Linked DNA regions of Homo sapiens: all the other regions are reported to be linked to region 1. Evidence: microRNA targets listed by miRTarBase, many of them from high-throughput screens and not tested one by one. Region 1 holds a microRNA gene; each other region holds the end of a gene's coding sequence.

The links. Region 1 holds the annotated microRNA hsa-miR-4691-3p (CCAGCCACGGACUGAGAGUGCAU, at 2,098-2,120, opposite strand). A microRNA usually pairs through its seed, bases 2 to 8, with sites in the 3' UTR of a target mRNA and lowers its output. Matches are read on the target gene's strand: a 7mer-m8 pairs with bases 2 to 8, a 7mer-A1 pairs with bases 2 to 7 and ends in A, and an 8mer does both.
Region 2: miRTarBase lists CLIC6 as a target of hsa-miR-4691-3p. Seed matches in the 3' UTR shown: 7mer-A1 at 4,100-4,106.
Region 3: miRTarBase lists MFSD2A as a target of hsa-miR-4691-3p. The part of its 3' UTR that is shown has no 7-base or 8-base seed match.
Region 4: the mRNA of RAB44 is a reported target of hsa-miR-4691-3p. Seed matches in the 3' UTR shown: 7mer-m8 at 2,791-2,797 and 7mer-m8 at 2,903-2,909.

What each region holds. Positions count from the first base shown.
Region 1 is chr11:68,032,831-68,036,068 of GRCh38, reverse strand. It overlaps MIR4691 (microRNA 4691), which reads right to left and starts at 2,172; the gene lies at 2,088-2,172. NDUFS8 (NADH:ubiquinone oxidoreductase core subunit S8) reads right to left here. Exons shown (of 7, transcript NM_002496.4): 4 at 3,057-3,146; 5 at 2,786-2,958. It overlaps MIR7113 (microRNA 7113), which reads right to left and starts at 3,205; the gene lies at 3,147-3,205.
Region 2 is chr21:34,713,947-34,721,659 of GRCh38, reverse strand. It overlaps CLIC6 (chloride intracellular channel 6), which reads right to left. Exons shown (of 6, transcript NM_053277.3): 6 at 3,437-5,339. The coding sequence ends at 5,178. Among named protein-coding and RNA genes, the nearest start is that of LINC00160, 19 kb to the left of the region's middle.
Region 3 is chr1:39,966,846-39,974,558 of GRCh38, forward strand. It overlaps MFSD2A (MFSD2 lysolipid transporter A, lysophospholipid), which reads left to right. Exons shown (of 14, transcript NM_032793.5): 8 at 1-87; 9 at 241-324; 10 at 783-866; 11 at 959-1,071; 12 at 1,489-1,632; 13 at 1,724-1,900; 14 at 2,660-3,111. The coding sequence ends at 2,723. Among named protein-coding and RNA genes, the nearest start is that of MFSD2A, 16 kb to the left of the region's middle.
Region 4 is chr6:36,730,135-36,737,847 of GRCh38, forward strand. RAB44 (RAB44, member RAS oncogene family) reads left to right here. Exons shown (of 14, transcript NM_001257357.2): 13 at 539-615; 14 at 1,869-3,050. The coding sequence ends at 1,959. It also overlaps the pseudogene GPR166P. Among named protein-coding and RNA genes, the nearest start is that of RAB44, 36 kb to the left of the region's middle. RefSeq lists an enhancer at 5,126-5,627.

The DNA.
Region 1 (3,238 bases):
CCCTGCTGGCGTCCCTGCCTTGCTGGTTTTTTTTTTTTTTTTTTTTTTTTTGAGATAGAGTCTCGCTCTGTCGCCAGGCTGGAGTGCAGCAGCACAATCTCGGCTCACTGCAACCTCGGCCTTCCCGGTTCAAGTGATTCTCCTGCCTCAGCCCCCTGAGTAGCTGGGACTACAAGTGTGCATCACCACGCCCAGCTAATTTTTGTATTTTTTAGTAGAGATGGGGTTTCACCATGTAGACCAGGATGGTCTCGATCTCTTGACCTTGTGATCCGCTTACCTTGGACTCCCAAAGTGCTGGGATTACAAGCGTGAGCCACCGTGCCCGGCCTGCCTTGCCTGTTTGTCAGCTGCTGGCGTCATCTGCCAAGAACCCCCTCTCACGAGGGGGCTGTTCACCGCTTTGTTCAGTGTAGCACCCGCTGCCCTAAGGGTCTCACCCTGCGGTGAGTGCTGAGTTACAGTCCCGCCTCGCCTCACCAAGCTTTCCAGATATTTTGAGTTTTACAAATTGAAGGTTTGGGGCAACCCTGCATAAAGCAAGCTCACTGATGTCATTTTACCAACCATGTGCTTGCTTCTTATCTCTGGGTCAGCACTTTTTAGGAATAAAGTTTTTGTTGTTGTTTTTGTTTTTTGAGACAGAGTCTTGCCCTGTCACCCAGGCTGGAGTACAGTGGTGCAGCTCATAGCTCACTGCAGCCTCAACCTCCCAGGCTCAAGCGATCCTCCCACCTCAACCTCCCAAGTAACTGGGCCTACAGGGGCTAATTTTTTGTATTTTTTGTTGTTGTTGTAGAGTCGGGGTTTTGCCATGTTGCCCAGGCTGGTCTCAAACTCCTGGGCTCAAGTAATCCCCTCACCTTGACCTCCCAAAGCACTTGGACTACAGGTGTGAGCCACTGTGCCTGGCCCCTAAAGTATTTTTAATTAAGGTATATACATTGTGTTTTAGACACTTCGCAGCCTACAGTACAGTGTAAATCCTTTTTTTTTTTTTGAGACGAAGTCTTGCTCTGTGGCCCAGGATGGAGTATGGTGGTGCAATCATAGTTCACTGCAACCTCCGCCTCCCAGGTTCAAGCAATTCTCCTGCCTCAGCCTCTTGAGTAGCTGGGACTACAGGTGTGCAACCCCACACCCGGCTAATTTTTGTATTTTTACTAGAGACGGGGTTTCAACATGTTGGCCAGGCTGGTCTTGAATTCCTGACCTTGTGATCCGCCCACCTTGGCCTCCCAAAGTGCTGGGATTACAGGCGTGAGCCACCGCAACCGGCCCTAATTTTTTTTTTTTTTTTCAATTTTGGCTCACTGCAACCCCCACCTCCCGGTTCAAGTGATTATCGTGCCTCAGCCTAGCAAGTAGCTGAGATTACAGGGACCTGCCAACGTGCCCGGCTAAGTTTTGTTATTTTTAGTAGAGACGGGGTTTCACTATGTTGGCCAGGCTGGTCTCGAACTCTTGACCTCAAGTGATCCGCCCACCTCGGCTTCTCAAAGTGCTGGAATTACAGGCATGAGCCACTGTGCCCGGTCTAAATCTAACTTTTAAATGCACTGGAAAACCAAAACAGCTGTGTGACTCAGTTTACCCCGATGGTCTGGAGCCGAACCTGCAACATCGCCAAGAATGCCTACACTGTTGGGTGCAATCCTGTGCCTTAAATCTACTTCTCTCCATTTGATGGATGAGAAAAACAAGGTTCCGAGAGGTTGAGGGGCTCCCCAAAGCTACACAGCAAGTGGGGGCACAGCCCAAACTCAAGGGCACGTCCTAACTCTCAGTTCCTGGGTAGCCCGCTGGGGGAGGGGCTGGCTGGGAAAACCTTCAAATGTGCTTGGCAAGGACTCTCATATGCCCCCATCCCAGAAATGTAGTGTCCACAACTCACAGTGGGACCTGTGGCTGGCAGGCTCATCCTTTAGTGCTTATAAAGATGGAGACAATAACCTCGACCTCCTCGAGGGGTTGTGGAGATTACAGGAGAGGCTGTGAGTCACACACATGGCACAGCACCGGGTCTGTCTGTGGACAGCACTCACTGTCTGGAAGCCAAGGTTGTGACCATCGTGACTGCTGTTTGGGGACACTCCTATGCACTCTCAGTCCGTGGCTGGAGTAGAGACATCAGGGCCGCAGCTCATGGCCTGGAGGACCTGGGAGTGCTCCAGAGGACAAACTAGGATCTGGACAGGAGCCACCCGAGTCACAGAACACTGGGAGGGGTTGCTGTGCACACAGAAAGTAGCGGCGGCGGCTGCCGGGGCTCCTGCCAGGCACACACAGGGGTCTGACCAGAGCTCTGACCGAGTCATATTGTTCCCGTGCTGGCAGGCCTGGCCCCCACGGGTAAGCACGAGACCCACTAAGAGAACGGAAAGCCGGGCCTCAGGGGAGCAGCCACTGGGGAAGGGAAGCTGCAACAGGCACACAAGCAGGACTCCGGAAACGGTGGCTACATCCAGGGAGGCGTGGATGGCCTCAGGTGTCACCCCATGGCTCAGAGGCCCAGGGGTCACACCCTTGGCCAGACCCCAAGGGGGAACCTCTGTGTGTCAGGCGCCTGCCCAGGGCTGGAAGCTTCACTCTGCCAACTCACTGACTCTGTGCTCTGGTAACAAGCCCTCATCATTCCCATTCACGAGGGAAGTGGCTCAGAGGGGGAAAGGGACTTCCTGGGGACGCACATCAAGCAGGGGCTAGGGTTTGGGCCTAGGGCTGCCTGGCCTCCCTCTCCCAGTGGCAGGGGCTGGCGTGGTGGCCGGTTGGGGCAGGGGCTCACCTGGGCGGGGCAGATGGCCTCGCAGAGCTTGCAGGCAATGCAACGCTCCTCCCCGGATGGGTACCGGCGCAGCGCATGCTCCCCACGGAAGCGAGGGCTCAGCGGGCCCTTCTCGAACGGGTAGTTGATGGTGGCCGGTTCCCGGAACAGGTAGCTCAGGGTCATGCCCAGGCCTGTGGGCAGCACGGGTGTGGTGGGCAGGGGCACCCTCCTCCCCCATGCATCCGTGCCCACCCGGCACCTTCCCTGTCCCCTCATGCCCAGGACGCACCTCGGAAGAGCTCAGTCCACAGCAGGGTGCGGGCTGCCCGGTCAGTCACTGACTTCATGTCCATCTCGGGATCCTGCATGTTCACATACTCTGCAGAGAGGCGGGCAGGGAGGCCATGGCAAGAGGCCTCACACACTGTCTCCCTGGAGCCTCAGGGAGAGCAGCCTGGCCCTCACTTCCAG
Region 2 (7,713 bases), not on the chromosome of region 1:
ATGGGTGTGAGCCACTGCACCCGGCAGAACTTGTTACATCTTAACGCCAGGAAGGAAAAAGCAAGCAGGAAAACAAAAACCTTAATGCTATTTGAATACATCCCCTTTAACAAAACCAAGAAGCATTCTAAGCAAGGACGGTTCTGTCCCCGGGCCCTGGAATTCTCCTGGAACCTGGGTAGATCCAAAAGATTTAAAGAGCCTCAGAATGTCCTAGCAGGTGCTGGTTACATGTGTAGGTCAGAGCTTCAGAAACAGACCTAACTCAGACTCGCAAGTGTCAGCCACCTGGAAAGAGGCCTTTGCAGGGAGACAGAGCCCAGCAGATCGGCTGAACCATGGGGAATCCTAGGCCAGCCACTGATGGCTACTGTCCTTGTCCACTCACCCAGGAGTACATCACAGAATCCACTACAGAAGGGGATCGAGGAAGAGATGGGAGAGGGAGGTGTCATCAAGAAAAATAGTTTCTCTTCCAGAATGTTGTTAGGACAAGCTTACAGAGCCAGGGGCCATGGGAGCCAGAACAATAGGGTAGGACTGAACAATAGGGTAGGCAGTCCCACAAAAGGGTAAAATGAATACAGGTTGGATAAGATCCCATTGGTGGCCCGATCCCAGGCCTTATAACCTAAGTAAATGGCTTCCTCCTCCCAAATATGCAGCTCCATGCTGCTGAACACAATTTCCTCTGGACCATGACTTGACCCGCCACTTCCCCAGGCAGCTTTCGACTCTGCCTGCCTAAATGGCCTCCTTCAAGGCAAGGCTCATAGAGGACTCCACCAGAACCCTCTGCAATGGGAACAATGACCGTGTCAATCCACCAGCTGCAATGGCAGGTGCCACTCCTGCTGGGTCCCTGAGATCCCAGAAGCAGAAAGGGCTTCCTGACACCCCAGACCTGCAAAGGCCCTGAGGAACAGTGTAGTCAGTCCCTTTGTGACCAGAGGCCACACACATCCCTTACAAAGTGGCCATGGCCTGAAATGCATGTAATTTATTAAACCAAAATACCAATGTGTGAAGGGAAATTGGCCACAGGATAATTGAGACTTACACCCATATATGGAAAGAGAAGTCATTTTGTCATGTGAATAGCATCCCCCAATGCATCCATTTCATGTATGTAGGGCTTTGTTAATTATGTGTGCTTAGAATGAAGGACATCTTGGTTCTCTTAACTGTAAAATAAAAGAAGGGTTGAGATTTTCTTGTAAAAAAAAAATTTTTTTAATGCCTGCTGGACATGGTGGCTCATGCCTGTAATCCCAGCACTTTGGGAGGCCACAGCGCATGGATTGCTTGAGCTCAGGAGTTTGAGACCAGCCTGGGCAACATGGTGAGACCCTGTCTCTACTAAAAATGCAAAAAAAAAAAAAAAAATAGCTAGGCGTGGTGGTGTGTGTCTGTGGTCCCAGCTACTCAGGAGTCTGAGGTGGGAGGATTGCTTGAGCCTGTGGTGGTGGGTACTGGGGATGGGGTGCAGAGATGCAGTGAGCCGAAATCACGCCACTGCACTCCAGTCTGGGCGACAGAGTGAGACCCAGTCTCAAAAAAAATTAAAATGTAAAAAAAAAAGCCATTAATCTAAAATTTTCCAAAGCCTAATTATGAACCACTGGAAGGGGGAACTTCAGGGCAGGGTGGGTTGTGCTAAGAGTGAGTTACTGCTTACGACTGGGGGAGGGTGAGAGGGGAAGGAGTTCATCCTGCATGCGGGGTGGGGGTGGAGGGTGTGCATGAATGTCTGTCTGTGGGAGTGTGCTTATGAGTATGTGAGAGTGTGTGACAATGGTGTCACAAATTGGTGTATACACGTATGTGTGTCTAGTGTGTGTGTGTGTCTGTCTGTCCGCCTATCTTGGGGGTGAAGGGCTTGAACATATAATCAATTCTTAGAGATAGACTTATAGAATGGAAATGATTGAGACCTCTGGTCTCTGGAAGTCCTCTTCTGGGCGGATTCTGTCATTGCATTTCCGTATGCTGCAGTATCCACAAAGTAGAACCTTGTGATGCTCTCATGTTCCCTTCCAGCCTGCTTTAGGACATTCTGTGTTCTTAAGGAAAGTTTGGAGGCCGGGCGTGGTGGCTCACACCTGTAATCCCAGCACTTTGGGAGGCGAGGCAAGTGGATCGCCTGAGCTCAGGAGTTTGAGACCAGCCTTGGCAGCACGGTGAAACCCCATCTCTACTAAAAACAAAAAAATTAGCCTGATGTGGTGCCCTGTAATCCCAGCTACTTGGGAGGCTGAGGCAGGAAAATCGCTTGAACCTGGGAGGCAGAGGTTGCAGTGAGCCAAGATCGAGCTACTGCACTCCAGCTTGGGCGACAAAGCGAGACTCCATCTCAATTAAATAAAAAAAAAGGTAAAGTTTGGGTTTTTATGAACTAATTTTCAAGCCTCTCGGGCAACTAGAATTGAGAATGGAATCCTCTCCGTCCAGAAAAACTTCCACACAGCCTGAAAAGAAGAATTTGTTCATTATTCGTCCATGTTTACATTTTGTATGGTATCTCTTGAAGAACAAATGCATTTTGTTTTTTAAAACACACTGTAATGAAGATTTTGGTCCAGCAGAACAGCTCTGGAATATTTCTTACCTCCTTACACACATGTAGGTTTTTAGGAGAATCAAGAGGTGTGGGCTGGGGGCGGAGCTGAAGGCAGAGTTGGGACAGGGCTGGGGAAGACCACCCAGAACCAGCTCCTTTCCTACAACTCCACGTAAAAGTAGAACAAGAACACCCAGCAGGGTGTCGATGCCAGTCACCTGGACAAGGACTGTTCATGGGTGTCTTTGGAGGCCTCTTTAAGGTTCCTTTAAAATGTCTTTGTGATTCACAACTGAAGTATGGATTGTCTCTAATTCAAATGCCCATAATCTCAGGTTCAAACTTGCTCTCACCATTATTTTATTTTATTTTATTTTATTTTATTTTATTTTATTTTATTTTATTTTATTTTGTTTTTCATTTCATTTCATTTCATTTCATTTCATTTCATTTCATTTCATTTCATTTTGAGACAGGGTCTCACTCTGTTGCCCAGGCTAGAGTGCAGTGGTGTGATCTCAGGTCACTGCAACCTCCACCTCCCAGGCTCGAGGTATCCTCCCACCTCAGCCTCCCTAGTAGCTAGGACTACAGGTGCCCACCACCATGCCTAGCTAATTTTTGTATTTTTAGTAGAGATGGGGTTTCACCAGGTTGGCCAGGCTGGTCTTGAACTCCTGACCTCAGGTGATCTGCCTGTCTCGGCCTCCCAAAGTGCTGGGATTACAGACATGAGCCACTATGCCGGTATGCCAGGCCTGTCCTCACCATTTTAAAAGAAGCCCATACCATTCATTTTATTTCTTGAAACCTAAATGGAGAATGGGGAATGCAAAAAATAATAAAAAATAAAAAATAAAACCCAAAAGAAATTGGTTCCATTTAAACATTTTTATAATTTGTTTCATTTTCAAGGCACAAAGAGTTTATGTCAATCATTTTAATGTCTAAGAATACAAAGTTAGCACTAGTAACATCTGGTAGTCTAATCATTTATCATGCTTAAATGTAACATTACAAAACTACATTTTAAAATCTGCCCCCTAACCAGATGTGAAACAACGTGGACAAGGGTGACATGTGCTAGACCCAATCTCCAAAAACGTATGGTTGACAAAGACAGCTGACTGCTGGGGTAAAACTGCAGCAGTCATAATCGAAGAGCGAAAGAGGCCACTCTATTAAAGACTTTGTTTCTTTTGCTAGACATTTTTCACCTAATCCCAGGATAGTTTCTGTTAATGCATCTTACTCTCTTTCAAACGAATCGTCCCTAGAGCAGGTGTACACATTAAAAATGAGCTTTATAGCATCAAACACATACCACAACCAACTCTACAAGGAGGGTTTTCTGTAAGATGTGTACGACTGTCCGAAGAACACATTCTGGCTGATAAGTCTCAGCTCCTGTGAGGTCCTGATGAGTATCTAAACAACCTCACATTTTCTCTTCCACGCCTAGGGTTAAGGCCAGCACTCAGCCCACACACAAAGCTGTGATGAGAGGTTGGTTAGGGATGGTGGAGGCAAAGCCACAGATCAGCCAGAAACTCTTTTGAGTCAATAGTTTCTACTCCCTCCCTAACTGGACCGTTTACCAGAACTGCCCAGGACTTGTCACCATGAATTTAATCTCCCTGGATTTTCCCTGCTTGATGTCTAGATGAGACAATGAAGGGCAGAGAAGTATTGCTATCCCCACACGATACCACCAGCACTGAGGGACTGCAGCCTTGGGTCTCAGAGAGAGCCGCCCGGAGAAGGAACCAAAGTGTGCTTGGTTCACATTTCAGGGCAGGGAGGTTCTCCAAGTTGCAGCAGATATTAAGAGTCCTGCTGAAGGCACAGTCTCTAAGAGAGGGGAGGGAGCAAAGACAGGAAGCTGGAACCAGAGACACGGATAAGCACCCTCCCCCTTGCCTTTCCTGGAAGCAGAGGCAGTGGCATCCTGGAGGCAGAAATGAGGCAGAGTGGGGGTGACCCAGGGCTTCCGGTTCCTGCTGGTCATTGCGTGCGCATCTGTGGGCTTCACAATTCCCCACTCCTTAAAATCTAACCTCAAGCATCTTCTCTGGCACTGCGGTGCCCAATATTTTTGTATGGTGTAAGTCCTCTGTGTATGATCATCCAGGAATCACCAAGAGGTCCCCTCACCAGTGCTTTAAAATAAAATAATGCAATACCATATATGAATGAAATTGTGTGTGTGTGTGTGTGTGTGTGTGTGTGTGTGTGTGATAGAGAGAGAGAGAGAGAGAGAGAGAGAGAACAAGATACTGAAGATTTGGAACATGTTCTCCAGTAAGTTTTCGGTAATTAAGTGGAGTAAAATTGAAGGCGATTGTTAAAATGTCCTTCTTTACACCCTCTGATATTGCTTTAAAATATCAAGATAGGTGTGTCTCATTTTGTAATTACAAAGCAGTATTTTCATTTTGAAGAAAATTAAACTAATGTTTTAGAGAAGAAAAACAGGCTCTCAATGATTTAAAAAACTCTCAGAGACCAGTTTTTTAAAAATTGAAGGAATTGAACCCAAACCTAATTTGTTTTCAAACACACTGTTTTCGTATCCTTGCTCACTCAACTGAGAAATAAGACAGAAAACAGCCCAGCTTCATTTCATTCTTTTTGCAACATCTGAATATGCGTGTTCAATCTCTTGATCAGCTGGACACGTATTTGTGAACTCATCTCTAGCATAAGCATTATTCAAGTATCTCCAGATGCCAGTCATTTCAGAAGGAAATTCAAAATCTCTGTACTTCTTGGCCACAATCTGAAAATGAAGAGAAAATGATCAGTAAAGGGAAAACTTGCTAAGGTAGGCTCCCAAGTCAGACAGTCCATTCTTCTGAGGCATGCAATACATTCTTTCCCAGTTTCCCATGTCATCCCACAGTCATCCGGGCTACCCACCACGGCATCTTGACTTGCATAGGGCCATCTTGGGTGTGAGGAGGGCTATGAAGTTCCTGTACTCACTACAGTGACTGCACATAGTTCTGCCCACCAGTTTGTCACAGATGGGTCTTGGAATCCGCTGGCACGAGTATGCTCTGGACTCTGGTGGATTTCTCTTTGTGTTGCCTGTTACTTTCTTTCCATATGTTGTGCTACTGTGTTACTTGGTGCTATGTGAATAAAGACGCATGGTGGATCTGCTGTTTAAATGGTGCCCTCTCTTCTTCCTACTTGCTGAACCTCACTTCTCCAGTCCCAAACATCTGTGCATGTTAATCCTCCTGAATGCCATCATGCTGCCACTAAGAGCATCGTCTGATCGTGGGGCCCGCCTGTGCGGAGGAGAGATTCATGAACAAAGCAGATGCAAATCCCTACCCTCATGGGGATGGTGGGTGTAAGGAAGAAGCAGTCGAGAGACAGCACCAAGAGAAACACAGCAGTGTGAGATACTTCCTCTAGCAAGAGGGGTACAGTTGGGGAATTAGTCACAAAGATGTGCAGAACACTGGGGACTGTACCAGTTTGCTAGGGTTGCCATAATAAAGTAACACATGCTGGGAGGCTTAGAACAACAGAAGTTTACTGATTCCTAGTTCTGGGGGCCAGAAGTCCAAGATCAGGGTATCAGCAGGGTCATGGATCCTCTGAAGGCATTAGGGAAGGCTCTCTCTCCACTTCTGGCAGTGCCTTGGCTGTGCAAGCATAACTCCATCTTCACAGAGCCTTCTCCCTGTGTCTCTCTTTCCAAATTTCCCCAGTTTGCAACGATACTGGCCATCCTGGATTAGGTCCATCTCACTCCACGATGACTTTATTTTAACTAATTACATCTGCAAAGATCCTATTTTTAAATAAGGTCACATTCTGAGCTACTGGGGGTTAGGATCTCAACACAGGAATTGGGAGGAGGGCACAATTCAACCTGAAGTGGAGACCCAGAGCCATAAAGGCCAGTTGGGCTTTGCTGCCTCCTGTCCCACTGGTTCCCAGGATGTCTGCATGATGCAGGCATGGGGTTAATGAGAAGATCTTTGGGGCTTACTGCGCAGACTTTGGAGGCCAGCAGTCATTGATGCAATGTGACAGCAAAGAAGGACCATATAATTTTCAGAGAGCCTCCTAAATTGTTTGACACCTCTTCCTTGAATGCCAACTTCTTGATGCTCATGTTAAGAAGTCCGTTTTACTTTTGTTTGTATGTACCTGGTTTTTCTTTGCCCATCTTTTTATTTTAACATTCCTGAGTACATTGTTTAAGGCCATGCCTATGAACGTGACACTGAACTTGGTTTTCTTTCTTCTGTATGCATGTGTGTGTCCCTCTTTCTGGTCATTTAAAAGGTTTATGGTCATGTTAATTCTCCAGTGGTTTCCTACATAAATTTAAATATATAGGAATTCTCTATTTCTTGATTTATCAAGTTTTTTTTTTTTTTTTTTGTTTTTTTGAGACAGTCTCGCTCTGTCACCCAGGCTGGAGTACAGTGGAGGATCTCGGCTCACTGCAACCTCCACCTCCCAGGTTCAAGCGATTTTCCTCCCTCAGCCTCCCGAGTAGCTGGGATTACAGGTGTGCACCACCATACCTAGCTAATTTTTGTCTTTTTAGTAGAGACGGGGTTTCACCATTTTGCCCAGGCTGATCTCGAACTCCTGGCCTCAAGTGATCCACCCGCCTCAGCCACCCAAAGTTCTGGAATTACAGGTGTGAGCCACTGCACCCGGCCTTGATTTACTAATTTTAGATGCTGCCTGTTAACTCCTGATGATGACAAATGAGGGAATTTATGTATCTGTGCTTCTTTCCATTTCTTCTGTATTATCCTCCTTCCAATGGTGGTAATGACATAGTTTATTATATTCTGACTCTATTCTGTCCGTATAATTCCCACTGCTGTTTGGTCTTAGGACTAGTTTCAGATTTAAAGGGGTTCTCTGTTTAGGGCCTGTTCTTTTATTTCACACACCTTCTCTGTTTCTGGATTCTTACTTTGATTATGATTTTGTTATTTCATCATAGAACAATTTTATGTTTTTTAAAAAAGAGACCAGAGGTCTAGGTCAAAACGGTAATTGCCTAGATATAAAATTCTTACCTCATACATCATTTTCTTTAATTCTCTGTAGATGTTAAACCACAATTTTCTGATTTTTAATGGGTTCATGAAGACATCTGGGGCCAGTCT
Region 3 (7,713 bases), not on the chromosome of region 1:
TACTTCCGGGGCCTACGGCTGGTCATGAGCCACGGCCCATACATCAAACTTATTACTGGCTTCCTCTTCACCTCCTTGGCTTTCATGGTGAGTGGGTTCTGACATGCTCAGCCTGAGAAGGAGGTGTAATGGGAGCGGGGTGAGCAGAGGTCTCTGGGGCTTGGGGGATGTCTTGGGGAGGCTCAGCCCCAACATCACCTCCTTCCTTGCATTTCCTTCCCTACCTTGCTCCATGCCCAGCTGGTGGAGGGGAACTTTGTCTTGTTTTGCACCTACACCTTGGGCTTCCGCAATGAATTCCAGAATCTACTCCTGGCCATCATGGTGAGTGGGACCTGAGCAGGGGCGGGCAGCCTGGGCTGAGGTGACATAGGCTGTGGAATGGTTCTTGGAATAGGCAGAGGATGTTTCTCAGGCTGGCCCAAGGTCATGAAAGGATGAGGGAGGCTTCTCAGGGTATTTGGTTGGACCTTGCGAAGGTAGGACTGTGAAAGAAAGAGTTTGAGGTTAGATGTTTGAGTAGTGAGCACAGCAAAAGCAAGGGCGAGGACACCAGGAACTTGGCTCAGAGGTTTGAGAGGGCAGCAGACAAGGTGGGCCTGGACCAGCTCTGAGCTCCCCTGGGGAGCCGTCAAAGGTGCCTGTCATCTTCGTTGCTGCCCACATGATGTCATCTGGCTGCTCTTGGGCAGGGCTGGGAGCCACTTTGGGGTTCTGGGAAGGGCAGGAGGGGCTCTGTGGCTCTAAAGCACCTCCCTTTAACCCCCTTTGTCCATCCACAGCTCTCGGCCACTTTAACCATTCCCATCTGGCAGTGGTTCTTGACCCGGTTTGGCAAGAAGACAGCTGTATATGTTGGGATCTCAGTGAGTGGGGTTGAAGAGCAGAGCCTGGGTTGAGTTGGGATGTCTGGTGGGAACCTCCCAGCTGATTCATCTTCCTGCACCCCCTTCCCTAGTCAGCAGTGCCATTTCTCATCTTGGTGGCCCTCATGGAGAGTAACCTCATCATTACATATGCGGTAGCTGTGGCAGCTGGCATCAGTGTGGCAGCTGCCTTCTTACTACCCTGGTAGGTATATACAGGCCCCCCTCCTCGGGTATCTCCAGCCCCTAGTCCCCAGTTTTGAAGCTCCTTAGGGAGAGTTCTATGCAGTGTTCTCCCACAGGCCATTCTGTGGGTCCAGGTTAGGAGTGGGGGAGGTCTGTCCTGTACAGTTGTACAGGTAGTGAGCTTTGCAAGAACACCTAGTCAGAGTGAAAAATGGGGGCTGTAATCTGGCCTGGGCTCCACTTGCCACGCTGAGCACCTCCAGGCAGGGTTACTTCCTCTTAGAGCAAGAGGCCTTTTCTTATTCATGTGAAGGTCCCATATCCTCACTGAGCTGTGTACCCATGGTACTGCAAGCTTCCAGAGGGCCACCTCTTCTCATTAACACAGAGGCCCGTTAGGTGGGTCAGTCCTCATGGCTGTCACTACTCTGCGCAGGTCCATGCTGCCTGATGTCATTGACGACTTCCATCTGAAGCAGCCCCACTTCCATGGAACCGAGCCCATCTTCTTCTCCTTCTATGTCTTCTTCACCAAGTTTGCCTCTGGAGTGTCACTGGGCATTTCTACCCTCAGTCTGGAGTGAGTGGGGTGGGGACCTGGGGCAGGACTGGGCAGGGCCAGGCCCCAGGTGCCCCATCTTCACCGTTCTCCTACCCCCTGGGTCCCATAGCTTTGCAGGGTACCAGACCCGTGGCTGCTCGCAGCCGGAACGTGTCAAGTTTACACTGAACATGCTCGTGACCATGGCTCCCATAGTTCTCATCCTGCTGGGCCTGCTGCTCTTCAAAATGTACCCCATTGATGAGGAGAGGCGGCGGCAGAATAAGAAGGCCCTGCAGGCACTGAGGTGAGTGGGGAGGGGACAGGATGCTGGAGGAGGGGACGTCACTGTGTCTAAACCCTCAATTTGTGTCTCCTGTGGCCAAGTCCAGACTCACCCCCCACACATCTTCTCTGGACAGCTGTAACACTTAAGTACGCACCAGGCACTGTGTTAAGTGGTCTTACCTTTATTCAACAAATACATACTGGCTGCCTACTATGTGCTAGGCATTGACTGCTCTAGTGAACAAGACAAAAATCTCTGTCCTTAAGGAGCCTGTTATAGGACGTGTGTATCCATCACCTCCCATACCCCTCCAACAACCCTAAGTATCAGGTTCTTAGGGTTCCCCCTCTGCAGGTGAAGAAGTTGAGGTTTCAGCAGGAAGAGTACCTGGCCCAGCTGAAAGGGGCGGAGCTGGGGTTTGAGCCTCAGCATTCCGGCTCCAGAGACTGCACTCTTCATCAGCCTCCTGGCATATAGGACCTCGAGTGTGGCCTGACCCTGCATCTGGGGAAACCAGTGGGCAGGCTGGAGTGAGTCATGCCAGCCCGTCAGCCAGCCCAGGCGAGAGTGTAGATCTAGGGTTTGCAGTACCCTGTGTGCAGCAAGGACAGTAAACAGACCAACCAACAGTTGAAAGTGGGAGTGAGCAAACTCTGTGTCCCGCGGTTCACTTTAGTCCGACAGCAGGGCCAAGATCACGTGAGGAAGGAGGCAGGTGGGGCTGAGGAGGGGTAAGGATGGATGCTTCCTCCAACCCATCTCCTCTCTCTCTTGCAGGGACGAGGCCAGCAGCTCTGGCTGCTCAGAAACAGACTCCACAGAGCTGGCTAGCATCCTCTAGGGCCCGCCACGTTGCCCGAAGCCACCATGCAGAAGGCCACAGAAGGGATCAGGACCTGTCTGCCGGCTTGCTGAGCAGCTGGACTGCAGGTGCTAGGAAGGGAACTGAAGACTCAAGGAGGTGGCCCAGGACACTTGCTGTGCTCACTGTGGGGCCGGCTGCTCTGTGGCCTCCTGCCTCCCCTCTGCCTGCCTGTGGGGCCAAGCCCTGGGGCTGCCACTGTGAATATGCCAAGGACTGATCGGGCCTAGCCCGGAACACTAATGTAGAAACCTTTTTTTTTACAGAGCCTAATTAATAACTTAATGACTGTGTACATAGCAATGTGTGTGTATGTATATGTCTGTGAGCTATTAATGTTATTAATTTTCATAAAAGCTGGAAAGCAGCTGCCTGTTTCTGTCTGTGTCCTCAGCCACTCACTGAGCCCTTCTGCCTTAAGACTCCGTTAGAGAACACACTGAGCCCCAGGTGCTACTGGGTGGGGGCGAACATGTCTGGAGTTGTGGCTGGAGTGCAGTGGCGCAATCTCGGCTCAGGCAATCCTTCCTTCTGCTTCACCCTCTCGAGTAGCTGGGACTACAGGCATGCACCACCACGCCTGGCTGATTTTTAAATTTTTTTGTAGAGATGGAGGTTTCACTATGTTGCCCAGGCCAATCCTTCTCACTGGACTCAAGCAATCCTCCTGCATTAGCCTCCCAAAGTAGTGGGATTACAGGTGTGAACCACTACACCTGGCCTCTTGCTAAGTCAAGACTGTTCTTATTTGAAAGATAAGAACACCCTAGTGTAGAGAGGGATTTAGCTAAAGTCACGCAGCCTTTAGTGACCTAACTGGAATTTTATCCCAACTCTGTAAGACTCCAATACCGTAATCGCCACTGTCTACTTCCTTGTGTCTGAGAATGACCAGGGGACCGGCAGACAGATGCTTGCTCTGGGTGTGCCTGTACACTGTGCTTCCTGCCTGGTGCATGCCTGAGCCTGCAGGGCTGGTGGGGCTGGAGGCCTGTGGGGTCCCTGGAGACTGGTGGTTCTTTCTCCACAACTGTTACTGATGGTATTGAAAGGTGAGAATGTACCTGCTGGATGTGTGTATCAGATGAGGGAGGATTTTACCACAGACGCACTGGTGACAAAAAAAAACCAAACACCTCCGGTAGGGAACAGGGTGGTGGGGAAGGCCTAGTTGGGAGCACTTGGCTAACTTCCATGGTATGAATAACTCCCACCATAGCCAATTTCAAGTTATCCATGGTTGTTCATTTGAACATTTCCTAAACATTTAGTAGTTGGCTTTTACAAGCTGGTAGGAGCTTGCCTAACACACCACTGGGTCTCACACTTAGGCCAAGCCCCCAAAATCACAAGAAGGCAAAGCTGGCAGGATCAGGAGCTACTAGTCAAATCTCCTGATTTTATAAATAGATAAATGAGGCCCAGACAAGAGAGGCTCTTAGGCTATTCTGGCTTGGTTCTTACCTTGAGTGTGGGGCTCCGTTTTGGGTGGGAGGGAGGTCCACCATTTTTACTGATGAAGTTCTGCCAGGTTACTTTGATAAATTACATTAAGCGTTACTAACAGGCATGGTTACATGTGTGTAATAAGTATGAATTCAGTTAGTCTTCAGATAGTTGTCAGAACTTCCCTATGAGGAAGGTATTATTGTCATCCTCACGTTAAGAGATAAGGAAACTGACGCAGGGAAAAGTTAAGTAACCTGCTCAAGGTCATTGGACAGTCACTGGAAGAGCTGATACTTGAATCGAGGTTGGCTATAGTGCCTGGGCTCTTAACCACTACTTAAGGCTGTTAGGTGAACCAATGGTTTTGTCAACACCAAGGCAAGTCACACACTGTCTTTGTATCAGCCATCTCATGTCAGGCTGTCTGGGCAAGGCAGGAGCCTAGAGTCTGTTATGGCCTCTGGAGCTGGCCTGCTCAGAGACTCTGAGATAATGTTTATAGAAGCCCACTTATACCTCCTCTCTCCCTCCACTCTAACCAGTAACCACCAAGTCCTGTCTTTAAAAAAAAAAAAAAATTAAAGTTTTCAGCTGGGCGCAGTGGCTCACGCCTGTAATCCCAGCACTTTGGGAGGCCGAGGCGGGCAGATCACCTGAGGTCAGGAGTTCGAGACCAGCCTGGCCAACATGGTGAAACCCCGTCTCTACTAAAAATACAAAAATTAGCCAGGTGTGGTGGTGCATGCCTGTAATCTCAGCTACTCAGGAGGCGGAGGCAGGAGAATCGCTTGAACCCAGGAGGCAGCAGTTGCAGTGAGCTGAGATCGCGCCATTGCACTCCAGCCTGGGGGACAGAGAGAACCAGTCTCAAAACAGAAACAAACCAAAAACCAACAAACAAAAACAAAACTAGCCAGGCGTGGTAGCACATGCCTGTAATCCCAGCTACTTGGGAGGCTGAGGGCAGGAGAATGGCTTGAACCTGGGAGGCGGAGGTTGCAAAGAGCTGAGACCATGCCATTGCACTCCAGCCTGGGCAACAGAGCAAGACTCTGCCTGAAAAAAAAAAAAAAAAAAAATTAAAGTTTTCCAAACCACTCAAGCTTGTTTCTTTCTTAGCCCCACAATTACTTCTCAGGCATTATGCTCTCTTACCTGGGTGAATAGACAAGCATCCTGTCTTGTCTCCTTGACTTTAATTTGATCTCCTCACCTTCTTTCTGCAAACTATCCAAGATAACTCAGTAGCTCTCCTGTTTAGAAACATTTCTGTAAACTGGGTGTAGTGGCTCTGCCTGTAATCCCAGCTACTGGGGAGGCTGAGGTGTGAGGATTACGAGGCCAGGAGTTCAAGACCAGCCTGGGCAACATAATAAGACCCCGATTCTATAAAACAAAAAACAATTAGCCAGGTGTGGTGGCTTGCACCTTGTAGTTCCAGCTACCCAGGCAGCTGAAGCAGGAGGGTCTCTTGAGCCCAGGAATCTGAGGCTGCAGTGACCTATGATTGTGCCACTGCACTCCAGCCTGGGGAACAGAGGGACACCCTGTCTCAAACAAAACAAAAAGTTTCCTAGAAATCCTTCTGTGAGTTCCTGTCTGAGTACCCTACTGACCTCCCCAGGCCCAGATCTAGATGCAGCTCTTTTTGCAGGCCACCTGCGTGACCCTGGTCTTGCAGCTCCTGCTGCAGCTCTACCTGGCAGACACCCATCCAATGTGTCTTGACTCCAGCAAGCCCCTCTGAAGCAGTCCCTACCCCTCTGCCTTTGGGACATCTCAGAGGGATCGTCTCTTTCATCGTGGTCTCCCACACTGAGCCGAGGGCCAGGCATGGTGGGGTGCGGCAGGCACGTGGAGCTGAGTGAATGGGAGCTGTGACCAGAGCAGGCTTTGGCTGGGCATCAGACCCAACTCCCACTGACCCACTGTGACACCTCTCTCCAGGTCACAATTTCCCCAAACTTCCTATGGGGATTTAGACTTTTCATTTTTTCTTTCTTTTTCTTTTTTTTTTTTTTTTTGAGACGGAGTCTCGCTCTGTGGCCCAGGCTGGAGTGCAGTGGCGCCATCTCGGCTCACTGCAAGCTCCGCCTCCCGGGTTCACGCCATTCTCCTGCCTCCGCCTCCGGAGTAGCTGGGACTACAGGCGCCCGCCACGCGCCCGGCTAATTTATTGTATTTTTAGTAGAGACGGGGTTTCACCGTGTTAGCCAGGATGGTCTCGATCTCCTGACCTCGTGATCCGCCCGCCTCGGCCTCCCAAAGTGCTGGGATTACAGGCGTGAGCCACCGCGCCCGGCCAGGGGATTTACACTTGAACACCCTTGCTTCTCTCCAGTTTCACACTCACAGAAAATTGCTCTCCTCTTCCAAGATCCCCTGTTGAATTCTTGGGGACTTCTTTCGGGGTGGGACGGGTGAAGAGGGGAAGCAATGTCTGTTGGGTCATTGGCTACTCTAGGTCCCTTCTGGACAGATCATACCTACTTATTCTTGGGAGAAGAGCCATATTGACTTCCTCTATGCTTGGATCCAGCATTACTACAACAAACCCTGTCTCTCCCTCTTCACTCGGCCCTGCTGCCCTGTCTTGCCAACCTCACAGCCCATCCACACCTCTGGTAAGGACCAGGTGCAGCTTTGGCGCCACCTGCTGGAAGAAAGGAGCAGCACCTCCACGTTTCAAAGAGGAAATTCCAGATCTGACATTGTTTTGGAATATCGATTCCATTGATCCGAACAGATATTTACAATGAGTCTACTATATGCCACACACCAACTAGGCTCTGAGGACAAAGTGGTGAACAAAATAGAGCTTACATTCTCAGTGGAGATCAATGACAAATAAATAATTTCAGATCGTAATAAGCATCATGAAAGAAGCGAGGTGATGTGATGGAGGAAACTGGTACGGAACTACTTTAAGTCAAGTGCTCAGGAAAGAATGTCCTGAGAAAGTAACATTTGGCTGGACACAGTGGCTCATGCCTGTAATCCTAGCACTTTGGGAGGCTGAGGTGGAAGGATCACTTGAGCTCAGGAGTTCGAGACCAGCCTAGGCAATAGAGTGAGACCTCATCTCTACTAAAGATAAAAAATTAAAAAAATTTAAAAAAAGAAAGAAAAAGAAAGTGATCCTCATGAAGGATGAGAATTAGCTAAATGTGAAGAGAGCTTAGAGGGAAAGCATTGCAAGTAGAGGAGACAACGCAGACCCCAAGGCCCCAAAGAGCTTGGAATATCGGAAGGACAGAAAGGAGACCAGTGTGGCCAGAGTGTAGTGAATGAGGCCAGGCACAATTGCTCAAGCCTGTAATCCCAGCACTTTGGGAGGCCGAGGCAGGTGGATTACCTGAGGTCAGGAGTTCGAGACCAGCCTGACCAACATGGTGAAACTCCATCCTACAAAAAATACAAAATTAGCCAGGCGTGGTGGTGCATGCTTGTAATCCCAGCTACTTGGGCAGGAGAATTGCTTGAACCTGGGAGGCGGAGGTTGCGGCGAGCCGAGATCGTG
Region 4 (7,713 bases), not on the chromosome of region 1:
ATTGCTGATATTTGACTGGAGCTTGCCAAAAATAGCAATTTCGTGTGGTTTAACCTAACTGTACAGGACAGTTAGCCCCCGCCCCGTAAAAGGGTTATATAAAACAGAATGGCAATATCTACCCAAACACTAACAGCAGTGGTTTAGATATTGAGCTGGTACTGTCTTATACTATATCTTCCAATATTCCCCCAATGAAATATTTCTGAAATTAAAAAACATAACTAACATTTATAAAATGTCTCCAGGGGCATTTCTCCAAGTTGGGATGCAGGCTTCCCATGCCACTCCGAAGGCTGTGAAATGTCTCTTCAATGCATTCCTTGACACCTTGGCCAGCCGGGGTGAAGGGACAGTGGGCAAAGGGCTCCAGGCAGGGACCGTGGCCCACGCTGAGATGGGGCTGTCTTGCTCGCCACTGAGGTCAGCTTAGGGATGCATTGGGACTCTGATGGCCGGGACTTTAGTGGCGGGGTATGGCCTGGCCTTTCAGTTGTCTCTCCCAAGGCACATATGTCCCTCCCTGTCTGGCCTGCAGGAACTGGGGGTCTATTTTGGGGAGTGCAGTGCCGCCTTGGGTCACAACATCCTGGAGCCTGTAGTAAACCTGGCCAGGTAAGTGCTGCCCGCCCCCCGCCGCCCCCACCCCCCCCCTTGCAGAATCCTCTGGGACAGCTCCGGCCCCACTCTTGACTCCCAGGTGGGACAGGAAGGCCCATTCTGAGGAAATGGGTCAGGGAAGCACCTAGTTAAAGACCTGGGCTCACCAGTCTGAGGGGAGAGAGAGCCCTGCACTGAGAGTCTCCTGACTCCAGCTCTGCCCTTCCCGTTCGCTGAATCACTCCCCACAGGCACTTAGGCTCTCTGAGCCTCAGTTTTTTCATTTGCAAAGAGGGCTGAGAAAAGGAGTGTCTCTCTTCTGCTCCCAAACTTCCAGTAGCTTCCATTAAAATCCAAATGCTTTGCAATGGCCTGCAGCATCTCTAGTGCCATCTCCCCCACCCCTACACACACACACATTCACTCACACCCACACACACTCACACTCTTACACACACTCACACTCACACACACACACTTGCCAAGTTCCAGCCACTCAGAGACTCCCTCCCTGATCACCCACCTGCCATCACTATTTTGGATCACAGCCCCTGTTTGTGTCCTTCATGGCCCTTCTTGACACGACACATATTAATGATATATGCATTTATCTGTTTTCTTGTTGTCCAGGAAGGCAGGGCCATGTCTGTTTTGTTCAGCCCCTCTCCCCATACCTGGGACCTAGGTGCTCCATAAATGAATAAAATGAGTAAGGCATGAGGGGAGCTAGATCAGATGAGCACCATCTGGCACACAGTAAATATATCACGAAGAAATGAATGGACTTCTTTTGCTTCCCCAGCCTCCAAGCTCTCTCGGCACTGAGCCGCGCCATGGCCCTCTGCTTGGGATGCACCTCCCCCACCCTTTCTGCTGGCATACCTTGTCCATGGCTCAGTTCGGTCACCATCTCCTTCCTCCCCAGATCCCTCCAGGACCTGGTGTGAAGTCCCTGTGTGCCTCCCCATCATTCCCGGGCTGCAGTCACCCCTTTTCCTGTCTGTCTCTCTCACTACTCAAGGGAGGGAATGGTGGCTTCTTTGTCATAGTCAGAGTCCTGCACAGTGCCTGGCACATAGTAGGCCAGAAAGAGAAGGTCAAAGTCTCAGTGACTCAATTCTTCGGGTCTCATGTGGAATGCAGGGCAGGGGCAGAGCTGTTGTGGGGGTTGTGGGTGCGGCCTCCCACCCCCCAGCTGCACCCATGGGCCCATCCGTGCTGCCCGTAGGAGGTGAGAGAGAGGCCTGATGCCTGGCACTGTCACATAGGTCACTCAGGATGCAAGAAGAAGGCCTGAAGGACTCGCTGGTGAAGGTGGCCCCCAAGAGGCCGCCCAAGAGATTCGGCTGTTGCTCCTGATCACCTGTCCTGTCCTGGGTAGGATGGACACCCATGGGGTTTCCTGTCCCTCAGCTCCTGTCCTTTGTTCCTGGACAGCAACGACACAGAGGACCAGCTTGGAGGTTCAGGAAAACCCTTCTCAACTCAGGACTCGGATCCCAGAGCAGGGCCGCATCACCTCTGCCTTTCACACTCCAAAGGAGGGCTTTGCTGAGTGAACAAGGCTTGAGGGGCAGGGGTATGGCAAAACTCTCCAAACAAAGAAAGTCTAGAAAAACGACTTAAGGAAAATACACCAAAATATTGGCCGCACATCTGTGGGTGTAAAATTTTAGGGAGAATGTGGGGGGGGGGTGTTACTTTCCATTTTACACATATTTGTATTTTCAGATTTTCAACAATAACAGTATTCAATACATAATCAGAAAAAAGAGATGTGGAGGAGGAGGAGAGAAACTTCCCAAGGAGCTCCCTTGGGTGCTGCTGGCTCCTAATTAGTGTAACCTGTTAATCACATGTTGCTCGGTGTTAGAGCGGTCCCTCTGTGCTCTGCTTGGCAGGGCGCTGTTGGCCTGGTCTCCCTCGCTATTTCTATTTGCAAGCATGGGCTTTCTTCCCAGCAGAATCTGGTTCCTGGGAAGAGTAATGTTCCAAAGGCCTCTGATATGCCTCGATGCCCTCCTGTCTTCCAGAGCCCCAACCTCACTCCCTTTCCCCACCATACAAAACACACCTCCCAGGGGTCACATTTGGGGGTCCCGCCCCCTGCTCCAATGCCATGGTGTCCCCAAGCACAGGGCTTTGGCCTGAGTTGTCAGTCTCTGGATGCATTTGAGGGGCAGCTAGGGTGTGGCTGGGGGGTCCAAGCAGCTGGGGAGCCGAGACTCAGAATCATTCACACACTTCTATTTGGAGCTTTTGTGGAAGTTTCCAGAATTCCATAATATTCACCTCCTGAATGGTGGCTGCCCCTTATCAGCTAGGGCTGGGGTTTCCAGTGCCCTCGGAGAGCTTGCTTTAGAGTCTTGGAGAGACGGCCATGGTCTTCGTTTGTATGTCTGTCACATCTTACCATCATCACAAATTGAATATACAACATGTGCCAGGCACTGAATTTGTTTGTTTGTTTTTTGAGACAGGATCTCTCTCTGTTGCGCAGGCTGGAGTACATTGGCATGATCGCCACTCACAACAGCCTCAACTGTCTGGGCTCAAGTGATTCCCCCACCTCAGCCTCCCAAGTAGCTGGGACCATGGGCACATGCCACCACATCCGGCTAATTTTTTAGCTATTTGCAAACACAAGGTCTTGCAATGTTGCTTAGGCTGGTCTCAAACTCCTGGGCTCAAGTGATCCTCCCAATGTGCTGGGATGACAGGCGTGAGCCACCGCCCCCAGCCTGGGTTTGGTATTTTGTAATCCTTCAGGTACTGGGGAATTTCCTGGCTGAATCAATGGAAACCCCAGTTTCATAGGGGGACAAGCAAAGACAGTTCAAGGAACAGAGTTACAGAGAGAGAGAACGAAGGAGAAAGAGGGAGCAACAGAGGGCTGTTGCATCACACAGTCTTAGGCCCTGGCCCCAACCCCTCTTCTCAGTTCTGAAAGGAACGTCTCAGCAGCAGTGAGCCTTCCATCACCAGAGGCGCACAAGAAGACAGGTAATGCTTGGCAAAGGTGAGGTAGAGAAGATCCCAGCATCTGAAGCTGCCAAAGTTGGATTAGATTCCCTTAATGGACCCCATTCAACCTCCAGACTCCATGTGGATGATTCCCATGGTCCAGCTGATTCTTTGTGTGTTTTTGTTTTGTTTTGTTTTGTTTTGTTTTTTTGAGACGGAGTCTCACTCAGTCGCTAGGCTGGAGCACAGGGGCGCAATCTCGGCTCACTGCAACCTCCACCTCCCGGGTTCACGCCATTCTCCTGCCTCAGCCTCCCAAGTAGCTGGGCCTACAGGCGCCCGCCACCTCACCCAGCTAATTTTTTGTATTTTTAGTAGAGACGGGGTTTCACCATGTTGGTCAGGATGGTCTCGATCTCTTGACCTCATAATCCACCCGCCTCGGCCTCCCAGAGTGCTGGGATTACAGGCATGAGCCACCGCGCCCGGCCCTCCAGCTGATTCTTTTACTGGGCCCTTCACTGATCCTTTTTACCCCAATGTCTTCTCCCATCTCAGGTCCCCTCCCGCAGCCCACAAGCCTGCCCCTGAACTGAGCAGTTTCTCAGTGTGCTCAGAGAGAGAGAGAGAGAGAGAGAGAGAGAGAGAGAGAGAGAGAGAGAGAGAGAGAGAGAGAGGGGTGTGGGCTGCAGTGAGTGATGCTGGCCCTGGATAAGGATGGGAAACAGGTCCTATAGTTGCTAATGGCTCTTTCTCTGGGGCCCAGGGACCTGGCAGGCACCAACATCTCTGTCCTGTAGGCCAGGGAATTAATGAGGCAGGTAGGCAGGGTGTGATTCCTGGGAGAGGCAGTAGAGCAGACAGCCCCTGTCGTTTGGGGGCCCGGTACGGGAGTGGCCCCCAGGCCTCCCCGTCTCAGCTCAGCTCTGTTGTGGCCTCAGGCAACTCAGGTTCGCAGGAGGTGGAGTTCTGGGAGGAACTCCACACTGCCCAGCACCCTCTTTTGGCTTTCTTGGGCCGGATCCACCTGCTGGGCAGGGCACAGCTGTGCAAGGACCACCAGCCTTTCCTGCTGTCAAAGGGCTCACAAGCCAGGGAACAGGACCCAGGAACCTCAGAGCAGCACAAAGTAGGCAACGACAGCAGCAGGAGAAACTTGAGGTAGACTTCAGAGTGAACTTCCAGGCAAGTGGTGAGTTCTTGGGGCATGTCAGCCAAGGAGGCTCTGATTTAGGCTTAGCCAGAGTCTGATTAAGAAAAGGAGGGTGGGACTGGGCTGATGGGACTCAGGCTGTGGAGTGAGAAGGGAGGGCATGGGGAGAGAAGGAAGGCTGGGCAGGAGCTCTAAGAGAAGAGGGCTTTTGGGAGCTGAGGGTGAGCAGGGGCAGAATGACATCCCTCCTTTACCCAGTGCCTACCGTATGCCAGGCACTGTTCTGAGCACCTAGCTCGTGTTAATTCATTTAGCCCTCACACCATCAGGCGTGCTCCCCCATCTTACGGAAAAGGAAAGTACTGCATAGGGAGGCTGAGTAACTTCCCCGTAGTCACGTAGCAAGTAAGTGCTGGAGCCAGTGTTAAACGCAAACGCCGATACCCATAGACTTAACTCTGAAGTTATGCAACTGCTTACAGGAAGATGCGGATGCTTCGGGGAAGGAGGGGCCAGGTCCCTGAAGCCTCGTATTGCTCCCTGCCAATTCCTCTCCAGTAATAGTCCATGTCATTGGTGGGTGTGGACCAGGAAAAAGAGACGAAAAGGCAGTGATAAATGCCAGGAAAGTGGCTGGATGACAGCCTTCATCCAGGACAGGTCCTTCATTTCCCCTCCTCCTGCCGTCTCTGAAGCTGGTGGGACCCGGGAAGGTGGCCGACATCAGAATTCACAGAGGCCCCCTCTCCAGTCTCCCCTCAGCTGCCCTCAGGCACGTTGCTGCCCTGGGGCCCCAGAGACGAAGCCAAGTTCCCCAGGCTGGGGCTCTGCAGGAGGGACTCAGAGACTCCTTCAAACCTGGCTTTGAGCCCGCAGGAGAAGAGTGTCTCCAGCCCCCACCCCGGTGTGGTAGAAAAGGGGAGGGCAACTCCAGTAAGGACTCCTCTGCTATGTCTTGTTTGCTGCTGGATTCCGGGAACCTGGTCCAGAGCAAATGCTCAGGAAATATGTACTGAGTTAGCAGGCAAGCCTCCAGCTAAAGCTCCCGGGCCCTGGCCTGGCCTGCAGGGCGGCCAATGGTGACATCAGCCACTGGGCTGGCTCTAGGATGTCTACATCCCATCTTGTAGCCAGAGTCCTCCCAATCGGGGACTCCCCCTGCCCTTGACATGTGGGACAGAGTGGGGGTGAGAAGAAAGGTCTGACCACTGGGTGCAGACTCCCCCACTCTGCCAGGGGCCTGCACAGCATAACCTAGAGGGCAATGATTCCCAGGCTGGTCTGCCCTTAGAATTATTTGGGATCTTTCAAAAATGCTAAAGCCCAGACCAACTATGTCATGTCTCTGGGGGTGGGACCCAGGCTTCTGTATTTGTGAAACTCCTCAGGTGATCCCAAAGTGCAGAGAAGCTTGGGAACCACTGGAAGGGGCTTCACACCTTCTCAAAGCCCTTTCAGACCCACTTTTCCATTTGAACCTCAAATTAAACCTGCTTGTTTCACAGGGCAGGGTTTTTGTTTTGTCAAAAAATAGATACATATGTGTGTGTGTATGTATGCACATATATATTTATCAGATTATGAAAACAATGTGTACTCCCTGCAGAAATTTTAGAAATAAATTTTAAAGAAGAAAATGAAAATTACCCTAGTCTTACCACTTATGATAGTTACTATTGACATCTGTTTTATTTTATTTCCTTGCTTTCTTACAGCTGAGGAAACTGAGGTAGAGAAACATTAAGTAACTCTCCCAGGGGCCAGGTGCGGTGGCGCCTGTAATCCCAGCACTTTGGGAGGCCGAGGCATGAGAATCGCTTGAACCTAGGAGGCGGAGGTTGCAGTGAGTCAAGATCTCACTCCAGCCTGGGTGATAGAGTGAGATTCTGTTTCTAAAAAAATAAATAAATAAATAAATCCCAGGGTACTGGAGCTAGCAAGCAGCAGAGGCAGGATTTGAACCCAGGGTACTAATGGAGTCCATCCCATGGGGTTGTCATGAGGTCTGCAGGGGCTAATGTGTGCCAAGGACAGGCCTTATCTGGGCCCACTACATGCAGGGGGTCTGTGAAAAAAGGAGGCTTAGCAGGAATGGGGAAGGCGGCCTTTGGGGCTGGCTGGTTTCTACTTTGTCCTTGTGTGTTTGAAACAGAATGGAGCCCAATGCTACGTTCACCACGCAGCTCACGGCCACACCTGAGCGACTGCTCCGACTCATCTCTGCTGGGGTCTGTGGCCTCATCCTGCTGGTGGGGCTGTCAGCTAATGGGCTCATGCTGCTGGTGGTGGGCCGGGGCCCGGGCTCCCCCCACCCGCTCCACTCCCTGACCCACAGCCTCATGATGAACATCACGCCATCTGACCTGCTCTTCCTGGCCTGCGTGGTGCCTGTGCTGCTGCTGAGCTTCCTGCAGCACAACTGGTGGCTGGGCCCTGCCATCTGCACCATTAGCCAGGCCACCAACACAGCCACCACGTTCTGCATCTTCTATAGCATGGTGGCCACAGCTCTCCTGCGCCATGTGGCTGTGGCCCGGCCTGACCTGGCCTTCCCAGCCGGCTGGGGCACCCTCTTGCTGCTCTGTGGGGCCATGTGGGCCCTGGGCCTTACAGAATCCCTGCCCAACTGGCTGTTCCAGAGGGTGGCAGTGGAGGAGGAGACAGCGGGGGCTCCCAAGACCCAGGCCTGCCTCTTGCTCCTGAGCCCTGCTGGGACCTCCTGCTACATCAGCCTGCTGGGAGCCCTGGCCTTCCTGCCATGCACGCTGGGGCTGGGCTGCTCTTTCAGCCACGTGGGCTGGCTCCTGTGGACCCAGCCCCAAGGTCCCATGGGAGAGAGCATCCAGGAGCATTAAGAGAACATAGGGCTCAGCCTTGTGGTGCTGGTGGTTTTTGTGCTGATGTGGGGGCCCTGCTCCATGCTGGGTTATGTGGCAGCCATGGGCTACCTGCCTGCCACACCGGCTGCTTTTGTGGCCTCCAGCCTCTGCACCATC